Regions from separate parts of the Homo sapiens genome. Here region 2 is linked to region 1. The links come from fine-mapping of genetic effects on gene expression. Tissue or cell type: whole blood. Region 1 holds a variant in brackets; the other region holds the start of a gene. All regions are shown on one strand. Distances are between the middles of the regions. Region 1 has its middle 21 kb from the start of SPESP1. Region 2 holds the start of SPESP1 (sperm equatorial segment protein 1).

Region 1 (5,384 bases):
TCAGGAGTTTGAGACCAGCCTGGCCAACGCAGCAAAAACCCATCTCTACTAAAAATACAAAAACTAGCTGGGCATGGTGACATGTGCCTGTAATTCCAGCTACTTTGGAAGACTGAGGTAAGAGAATCACTTAAACTTGAGAGGCAGAGGTTGCAGTTAGCCGAGATCATGCCACCGCACTCCAACCTGGGTGACGGAGCAAGACTCCATCTCAAAAAATAAAAGGAAAAAAATAATAAAGTTGGAAACAGTAAAGTAGGGCAAATTGTGAGATATATTTTTGTTGTTAACACAAATTTTATTTCATATGTGAAATATCTTTAAAATGTATACTCTTTTAGTAGTTGTTATAAAACTAAAGAACAAATCAAGAGAATCATTATTACTGATTATTACAGAAGGTAATCTTGCCCTATAGAGGATCGGGGATGTTGAATATATTAGGTATGCCATCAACTGCCCCCTAACAAAACAAAAAGTGAGAAGAGGCCTGCCAGAAGCACTGCTCCAAAACATTAACTCTGCAAGGAATATTTAAGGAGCTTTGGAATTGGGCGTTGGGCATTGCAGTGTTACCAGCTGTCTTTTTTTTTTTTGTTTTTTTTTTTTTTTCAACATTTTCCCACCAAAAGGCATACAGATACTGTAATAAGCACATTCAGCAGTTTGTTCTAGGTCAAATCTTGGGAACATTACGCTAAGTGAAATAAGACAGTCACAAAAAGACAAATACTACATGATTCCACTTAAATGTGGTTTTAAAGAAACCAGACTCTTAGAAACAAGCAGAATTGTTGCTAGGGACTGGGGAAAGGGGAGAGGGGGAGTTGCTGTTTAATAGGTATAGAGCTTCAGTTTTGCAAGATGAAAAAGCTTTTAGAAATCTGTTGCACAACAATATGAAAATAGCTGACACTACTGAACTTCACACTTAAAAATGGTTAAGATGATACATTTTATACTGTTTAGCACAAAAATAATTTTATAAAAATGTACCTTTTGAAGGTTTTTTTATCTGATATGTGTAATACATAAAGCCAATTCTATCTAGATCCAGTCTTTATATTCTTTTTTTAATATACAGACAGGGTCTCACTCTGTTGCCCAGGCTAGAGTGCAGTGTTGTGATCATAGCTCATTGCAGCCTCAAACTCTTGGGCTCAAAAGATCCTCTTGCCTCAGCCTCCTGAGTAGCTAGGACTACAGGTGCATGCTACCACACCCAGCTAACTTTTTAATTTTTTGTAGAGACAGGGTCTTGCTGTGTTGTCCAGTGTTTACATTCTAAAGACACTGTATGTTGTCTGTCTAGAAATAATATGCTTTGGAGTGACCCAAACTGCAGTTAATGACATTAACAGGTAGAGGTGTTTTACATACCCAATGAAGGGATACACCTTTGCAAACTTTTCTATATTCTTCACAGATGCAGTCTGGCCTGGTGCTATCATGAAGCACATGTTCTCTCTCTGCTTTCAAGGACAGACATTTATGGGTTTATGATCTTCTCTCTATAGAGTAGGAAATATGTCATAGAGTTACAATACAAACTCACATTCACTAAAGAACAATTTAATAAGCAGTTTCTTTATTTTCATTGTTAAAACATAACAAATTGAGGTGCCTGTATTATTCTAATTTTAATTTACAAAATTCTAATCTAGCTCACAGTAGGACCCTAAGGAAACATGTTTGAATTTTTGTTATCTTTCCAAAAGGCTGAATGTTTTGGCTTAAACAGTTTGACTTTTTTTTCATTTGTTTACTAATTTGTAATGTAATTTAATACATTGCCACTGATATGGACAGTAGACTCTTTTAGGCACTAGATAAAAAGCACAGCCTCTGTGGTCCATGCTCCAGATTATTTTTCTACTCAGTCCTAACACCTGTGACCACCTGGCTGCTTGCTCAAATATAACAAGCTGGAATGAGAATGAGACTTAGATATGATAGACTTGGCATGTATCCTCAGTGTGTGGGCTGGTGGGAGGGATCATTTGATAAACAGTTAACCCCTCAACAACACAGATTTGAACTACATGAGTCCACTTCTATGTGGGTTTTTAAAATAAATACATTAGAAAATGTGTTCTACATTTCCAACAATTTGAAAAAACTTTGATGTGAACCATGTAGCTTAAAAATAATGAAAAAATTAAGAAAGTTAAGTATGTCATAAATGTATAAAATATACGTCGATATTGGTCCATTTTATCATTTATTACCATAAAATGAGTCCATTATAATATGTTAAAATTTATAAAAACTTATGCACACACTTACAGACGGTAGATGACACAATTCAGTCAAGAGAAATGTAAACAAATATAAGATGCAGTATTAAATCGTAATGCACCAAATGAACTGTGGTATATACTGTACTACTGTAAAAACTTCATAGCCACCTCCTGTTGCTATTGTGGGGAGCTCAACTGTCGTGAGTATCTGCTTAACTCAAGTGATGCAG[G/A]TCATCTCCAGGTGAGCAGTTTCTCCCTGCAGACCATTGGAACCACAGTACATGTGATCTCTCATGGTTCTCACATAGCTTTCATTATGTTTAGTTCAATACTGTAAACCTTGACTCACACCATGGAATCCATACAAAGTGCCCCTAGTGATGCTGGAAGTGTCTCAAGAAGCAGAGAAAATTCATGACATTACAAGAAAAAGTTAGATTGCTTGATACGTACTGTGGATTGAGGTCTGCAGCTATGGTTGCCATTTCAGAAAGACAATTCACCTTGTAAACAGTTAACTTACAATACAGATAAATATAGTAGAGTACTGTCAATGGATTTTCCTTAGGATTTTTTAAATAACATTTTCTTTTGTTCTAGCTTACTTTAAGAATATAGTATATAATATATCTAATATACTAAATATGTGTTAATTGACTGTTTATGTTATCAGTAAGGCTATCAGTAGTTAAGTTTTGGGTGAGTCAAAAGTTACACATGGATTTTTGACTGAGCAGGGGGTAGGCACCCCTAACCCCTGCATCATTTAAGGATCAGCTGTATTTAAAACTCAGAGTTATGTTTTCACAAATTTGGAATTTTGTTACCAACCACTCTGAAATCCAGCCTCACTGGGCTTTCCCTGAGCCCCACCGCTTCTCTAAAATGCTTTGCCAGACCATTTCCACACCAGCCTTCCTCTCACTCCTCCACTCTTGCTGTACCCACTTTCTGCAACCCCACAACTCCTGCTCCAGTGAGAACTTACCTTTTCTTCTTCACAGACAACTACCCCTATAAACCTTTCGGCTGGTATTTATTTATTTTTCCTTTTAATACTTTGATTTCTTTTAACCATTGAACTTTTCAAAGGAATGCAATGTTTATATAGAACTGGCCAGAATTTCAGTTACAGTTATTTTAAAAACTGGATTTGTTAATGGAAGAGTGTTTTCCAACTAGACAAATAGAAGGCAAAATGGATTGCCATTAATACAAGTGAAATACTACTAGTTATTTTGACCTGGGTAGAAGTTACACGGGTGTTCCTTTTGTGACCAATCACTGAGCTCTTCATTTCTGTCTTATACACTTCTCTGTAAATTATATTTCAAAATTACATACTTTTAAAATGTTGATATACACTGTCAAATTGCCCTTCAAAAATTCTGTGCAAATCTACATTCAGACCCCCCAGTGAGCCAAGCACTTCTTCCACATGGCGCCCTTGCCAGTTGTACAGTAGATTTCTGCCTGCACAAAGCTCATCTACTTTCAATCATTTACTGAGAACATTTTGCAGTTGTGCAGTTTCCAGGTCTTCATCTATGCTATCGATAATTGTGAAATTATGAAACATGCCATAACCATCTGCAGAAACTTTGTCCTTCCAGTCTTCCATCTTGTTTTGCCATTTTGCCATTCCATCTTATCTGCATTTGAAAATACTTCATTTCATCCTCGCGTGAAATTAGTGAGATAACTTCACATATTGGGAATATCATAAAAGTTAGCAATTCTGACATCTTTAAAAAGCTGGGACCAAATTAGTTTCTTATCTTGCAGAAATACCAGGAGTTGGTGTTTGCAGAGAATGTTTATTCTCTGCAGAATTCTCCACTCAGCAACCATCATACCTCATCATACAACACCACTTGTTTATGATTAGCTTCCATATGATCACAGAATAGCCTCACATTTAACACATAATCCTTTATGTAACTCACAATTTTAACTATGCTGCTAAGACACTATTGGTTCAGCTGGTTTTTTTGTTTGTTTGTTTGATAGCAAGACTTTCTCAATGAAGGAACAGCATGTTGGTTTATATTCTGGCCCAGCTCTTTTCTCTGGATTAACTACTCCAGAATGCTTACCTGTCATTACATCTGTGCATCAAAAATACTTCTACCCCTAATCTCCAAACCACATAGACAGTGTAATCTATCATCATTTTATACAGTTCTGAGTTCTGTTTATGGTAATGAAGTTGGAAAAAAAAATTCTACTTTCATATTACCATCATGCTCAAATAACACATATACTAAAAGAATTGCTTTGTTAGCGTTACCTGTGCATCAGGTTTCATTAAAAAATAGTTTGCTGGCTTTATTTGTACCATAAATTGGTCTTCCACATAATTAGATAGTTTTAAAATACATTAATCTATAGTTTCATTGGAAAACAGTCTTCACAGTATCTTCTTTGCTCAAGATTCCCCCATCATTTCCAAGCAAACATTTTTTATGAAGTTTTTTGCTAATGTCACCACAATTTAATTTTTTGTCCTAGTCATGCAAAGTGCTACTTGATAAGAAGCCTGAAAAGTACTACTCACTCTTCATATATGAAATATTGAACATCTTCTTCCATTAACTTTTTAATTCAATATTCCTTCTTTCAAACAATTCTTTTCATTGTGAATGTGTGTCTTTATGAGTTGCGTATGCATGTTGCCTATAGTTTGACGGTGAATTGCTTACATTAGCCAGTATATCTCTGCAAATAACACATTCAAATTTTAGTGCTTCTCAATTAATTAGAGCAGTGCAACTGAACTCAGTATGTAAAGGATTATACTTCTGAGTCAATCTAGCAGAAACTCTTTTGGTTGTCATGTCTTCAAAATTACTTTCATCGTTATTATTTGATTTACTACTCGTGCTACATTTAGAAAAGGTATGTATTTTCTAGATTTTTAAAAATTCCAATGAAAGTTAATTCTAGTAAATTATGGCTAAAAAGAAATGACACAAATTTTACTGCCCTAAATTGACTAATAATGTTATATTATAAATTAAATAGTAGACTTGATTAAAAATTAGGCTGATTATAAAAACAAGTTATCAAAATGCTTACTTTTTTCAGATTTTTATGTATTTTTGCATCACAGTTAACCACCTAACCTTAAACTATCACACAATG
Region 2 (5,384 bases), 22 kb before region 1:
TTTTTTTTTTTTAAAGCAAAAAGAATTCTCATTAAAAAGTAAAGTAAGTTGCACAGTGCAAATACATTAAAGAGGGAATACATTAAATACTTTCCCATTCAAAAATTTAAAAATGGCAAAGTATTTAAAACTATGGAAAAATCAGGTAGAGGAAACTGAATGTATAAAAATTTTATATAGTAAAACGTTGTTTCTCCAGCACCATCAGGATGTGTGTGTGTGTATGTAAAGGAGTGCCGACTTCTGTATACCCAAGCTGCATTTATGTCTAACTGAATTTAGATTAAACAAATACTAGCTAAGCTTGGATTGGGCCTGTTAGAAAGGTATAGGCAGATACAAGAAGTACTGAGGTTTTCAATAAATGCAATTACTTAATACACCCGTGATGTTTGCGTAATAACCTCAAAACTGTCTAGTAGTCTAGAAAAAATGTGTCAAAGCTGCACTTTTCATTATAAAAACCTATGTACCTTATCTTTTGCATCTCGCCAACAATTGTTTGAATAGTGGCCATATAAAAGAATGCATAGCTGATTTACATCAAGCTCAATGATATACGCATTTTGGTATACTTATTTTAAAAACAAAATTAAAATTAGAGAAAAAGTAGAGAGACAGATACAGAGAAAGCAGCCATGTACCACTGCCTGCTCTATATATTCCTTAATCCACTTCTGTAGAAGAAAGGTAATTACATATTCCAAGACATCTTCTATGATTACAACCTGTATATAGTTTCCTTATGTCTTATAACATCTATATATTCAACACAAAATCACTCCTTTTTTCTGGGAAGCGTCTTTTCATTTCCTACAACCCTTTTCTTTCTTCCCAAGAAAGATTAGGGAATAGGGTGCTAAGAAAGACAACAGGCTGGCTGGGCACAGTGGCTCAAGCCTGTAATCCCAGCACTTTGCAAGGCCGAGGCGGATGGATCATTTGAGGTCAGGAGCTCGAGACCAGCCTGGCCAACATGGTGAAACCCCGTCTCTACTAGAAATACAAAAATTAGCCAGGCGGTAGTGGCGTGCGCCTATAATCCCAGCTACTCAGGAGGCTGAGGTGGGAGAATCCCTCGAGCCTGGGAGGCAGAGGTTGCGGTGAGCCGAGATCGGGCCACTGCACTCTAGTCTGAGCTAGAGAGTGAGACCCTGTCTCAGGCAAAAAAAAAAGGGGGGGAAAAGGGAAGGGGAGGGGGAGGGGAAAATTATGGTGTTAGGCAAGAGACTGCACTGAGTTAAGTGGGTGTCCAGGGACTCCTACCTAGCAGTCCCAGAGTGTACTGTGTGACAGTGTTAAAGTCACTTCAGTTAAAGTCTCCATATATGTTAGTCACTTGTGACTTGCTGATCTACAACTACCAAAATGCAATAACTGGTGTTAGTAATAATGATCATCAGACATCAAGAAAAGATAGTAGCATCTTCATTATGTTCTGGTCCTCTATGTCAAGGAAGAAAAATTTTACAAAACTTTTTATTAAAAACAGCTACAAATCATAAATGCTAGTATTTAAAGAGCTAACTTTAGTTACCTAGAACTTCATCTAGAACTTTTCCCATTACTATTCATAATTTAGATTGTGTTGTATTTTCAGTTTTTAAATTTGATTTTTAACTAAGATCGTTTAGCAATTCTGAAAAATAGATTTGCATAATCAGCATGCACGATAGCGCTTTTTTTACACCTGTTAAATTGTATTTATTGATTTAAGTGAAACCAAACTCCAACATTACTAAATGCCACAATGAACTACAGTTAGACTAAATGGGGAAGCCTCACCTACCTGACTTAAATACTAAGTGCCTTAAGGTGCCCACATGATATTGTTAATATAGTAAAGTCTTAGCACCCCTGAATTTGACCTTATTGGTTTTCAGCTTTCGGGGAGGGACAAAAATTGCTCCTTGGCAGGTCTTAAGTTATAATCCTGCTTAACTAAGGCTTTGAATGCCGTGTGCGCAAGCATGCTCTCTGGGAGCGCATCCTCAGGTGAGTGTCCCAGACCGCGACCCACAATCCACATGCTCTCCAAATTTTACCGTACGGGTCAACCTTTTTTTCTGTACAGGGCCAGAGAGTAAATACTTCAGTCTTTGCAGACCAGACTGTGTGGCAACCACTTAACCCCGTTGTTCTAACGTGGGAAAGCAGCCATGGGCAATACGTAAAGGAATGAGCGTGGTGGTGTGCCAGTAAAACTTTATTCACGAACAATGAAATGTGAGCGTCATGCTTTTCCACAAGTCATGAAAGAGTACATTTCATATTTACTTTGAAAATGCAAAAATAGAACATCACACACCAGGGCCTGCCGTGGGGTGGGGGGAGGGGGGAGGGATAGCATTAGGAGATATACCTAATGTAAATGACAAGTTATGGGTGCAGCACACCAATATGGCACATGGATACATATGTAACAAACCTGCACGCTGTGCACATGTACCCTAGAACTTAAAGTATAATAATTAAAAAAAAAGGAAGAAAATGTAAAAATCATTCCTAGCTGGCCAGCAGCTGTCACACGACCCCTGCACGGTCACACGCCCAATGGCTGGGGAAGGATCGGGTGGGCAGAGGAAGGCCTCCGGTGAGGTGAGGGGGTTCCACCCGCGCCCACGGCCCGCAGGCGCTTCCCGTCTCATCTGGGCCGCGCCGCCTCAGTTGCTGCGTTCCCTGACCAGGAGAGGAGAGGGACACCCCTCGGCGTCGAGGCCAGGACCCCGGACAGTGGGGGAGGGAGGCATGTAGGACCAGGGAGAAGGAAGGGCCAGGCTTCGAGGTCGCGGAGCTCGGGAAGTTCCCCCAGGGTGTCCCCGGTCCGCTGCCTCCTCAGGCCCGTCACTCACTCGGATAAGCCGGCACAGACGAAGGCCATAGCAAAAGCGCAACTAGAAGGACTAAGGGCTTCATAGGCGTCGTCCGTAGCACTCTGCCATGCGACCGGAACGTCCTGGGGCCACCAGGCTGGGAACCTCAAGGCCGAAAGGGAAGGTGTCAGCGGAGTACCGTCCTGCCTCAGGCCCTGGGACACCCAGCAACGGTTGTCCCCAGCGCGCAAGCGCAGCGGCATGGGGGAGGGGAGAGCGAGCGGCCAAGGCCCGCCCCTCCTGGGACCGCGTGCAGGGGGCGGGGGATCGCGCGCGCCCCGCCCCGCCCCTTCCTAGTGCGCATGCTCGCTCCGCCTTCGTAGGTCCGCGCCTGGTGTGGGCTGGGAACGCCTCGACGCCCGGCTACTGCGTGCGGGGTGCTGCCTCGGGGCGTGCGGGGCTCGGCCCATCCTGCGCGGTAGGGATACCGCCGTGGTTTAAACGCGGTCCCTGTGAGGAAGGAACTGTAATGGGAGAGGCAGATAACCTGGCAATTACCACAGCGTGAAAGGGGGCTGTAGTGGGGGAAGCGCTAGGTACTGTTGTGCACAGTGGAAACCCACCCCCGGAAGCGGGTGGGGAGCTTGGCTAAGTGGAGGACAGCTTGGAGCACCCCAAGAACTGAGCATAGTTCCGGCGAGTTGCATTGTGGGGCTTGGGAGGGCAGTTGTTGGAGGACAGGGAGGAGAGGTAGGCAAGGGCATTAAAAACGCCCTAAGGGGCTTGGGTGTTTTTGTTTTTCAAAAGATCACATTCCATTTCTTTGACCTTCTTAAAAAGATAGGGGTAGGGATGAGGGAGAGTACGACTATGAAAGGATAGCATGAGGTTGTTTTGGGGACTAATAGATGGCAGTGGCCACAAGAATCTATACATGTGTTAAAATTCACAGAAGGCCGGGCACGGTGGCTCACTCCTGTAATCCCAGCACTTTGGGAGGCCGAGGTGGGCGGACCACCTGAGGTCAGGAGTTCGAGACCAGCCTGACCAACATAGTGAAACTTCGTGGCTACTAAAAATACAAAATTAGCCAGGCGTGGGTGGTGGCACACGCCTGTAGTCCCAGCTACTTGGGAGACTGAGGCAGGAGAATCACTTGAACCCGGGAAGCAGAGGTTGCAGTGAGCCGAGATCGTGCCACTGCACTCCAGCCTGGGCGACAGAGCAAGACTCCACCTCAAAAAAATAAATAAAAATAAAAATTCGCAGAACTGCACATCCCAAAGAATCTGTTTTTCTGTATGGTTATTTTTAAAAATTCACGTACACTCATCTCTGCCTCAGGAAGCAAGGGGCTTGGATTTTAGTCTGAGGCACCAGTACTAGAGTACTGCTAGGTTTTGAGCTGGGAACGGTTGTGATTAGATTTGTATTCCAGAAAACTCACTCTTCCTGTAGCATGAAGAATGGACTGGAGGGAAGCAAGACTAGAGGCGCCGGCGGAAACTGAGACTGCGCACGGCGCTTGCGGGCCAGCCCGAGTTCCGGGTGGGCGTGGGCTCGGCGGGCTCGGTGGGCCCGGCACTCAGCGCGGCCGGCCGTCCCCGCTGGCCACGGGCAGTTGGGGGGAGCTTAGCACCTGGGCCAGGAGCTGCTGTGCTCGATTTCTCGCCAGGCCTTAGCTGCCTCCCCGCAGGGCAGGGCTCGGGACCTGCAGCCTGCCATGCCTGAGCCTCCCTGAGGAGCGCCGCTCCCTGCTCCACGGCGCCCAGTCCCATCGACCGCCCAAGGGCTGAGGAGTGCGGGCGCAGGGCCGGGGACTGGCAGGCAGCTCCACCTGCGCCTGGGTGTGGGATCCACTGGGTGAAGCCAGCTGGGCTCCTGAGTCTGGTGGGGACTTGGAGAACCTTTATGTCTAGCTAAGGGATTGTGAATGCACCAATGGGCACTCTGTGTCTAGCTCAAGGTTTGTAAATGCACCAATCAGCACCCCGTGTCTAGCTAATCTAGTGGGGACTTGGAGAACTTTTGTGTCTAGCTCAGGGATTGTAAATGCACCAATCAGCACCCTGTCAAAACGGACCAATCAGCTCTCTGTAAAGTGAACCAATCAGCAGGATGTGGGTGGGGCCAGATAAGGGAATAAAAGCAGGCTGCCCGAGCCAGCAGTAGTAACCCTATGGAGTCTCTTTCTGTCGTGTGGAAGGTTTGTTCTTTCGCTTTTTGCAATAACTCTTGCTGCTGTTTACTCTGGGCCCACACTGCCTTTATAAGCTGTAACACTCGCTGCGAAGGTCTGCCGCTTCACTCCTGAAGCCAGTGAGACCACGAACCCACCGGGATGAATGAACAACTCAGATGGGCCACCATAAGAGCTGTAACACTCACCATGAGGGTCTACAGCTTCACTCCTGGTCCAGCTAGACCACGAATCCACCAGAAGGAAGAAACTCCAAACACATCCGAACATCAGAAGGAACAAATTCCGGACATGCTGCCTTTAAGAACTGTGACACTCACCACGAGGATCCACGGCTTCATTCTTTAAGTTAGACCAAGAACCCACCAATT

The links. PIP is the estimated chance that this variant, and not a neighbour inherited with it, causes the effect.
Region 2: SPESP1 starts here. The variant in region 1 is fine-mapped to the expression of SPESP1 in whole blood (INTERVAL, PIP above 0.99).

Annotation. Positions count from the first base shown.
Region 1 is chr15:68,906,336-68,911,719 of GRCh38, reverse strand. No RefSeq gene overlaps it. Among named protein-coding and RNA genes, the nearest start is that of SPESP1, 21 kb to the left of the region's middle. The variant G/A (reference allele first, on the strand shown) is at 2,471.
Region 2 is chr15:68,928,186-68,933,569 of GRCh38, reverse strand. SPESP1 (sperm equatorial segment protein 1) reads right to left here and starts at 3,045. Exons shown (of 2, transcript NM_145658.4): 1 at 2,853-3,045. The coding sequence starts at 2,916. SPESP1-NOX5 (SPESP1-NOX5 readthrough) reads right to left here and starts at 3,045. Exons shown (of 17, transcript NR_033672.2): 1 at 2,853-3,045.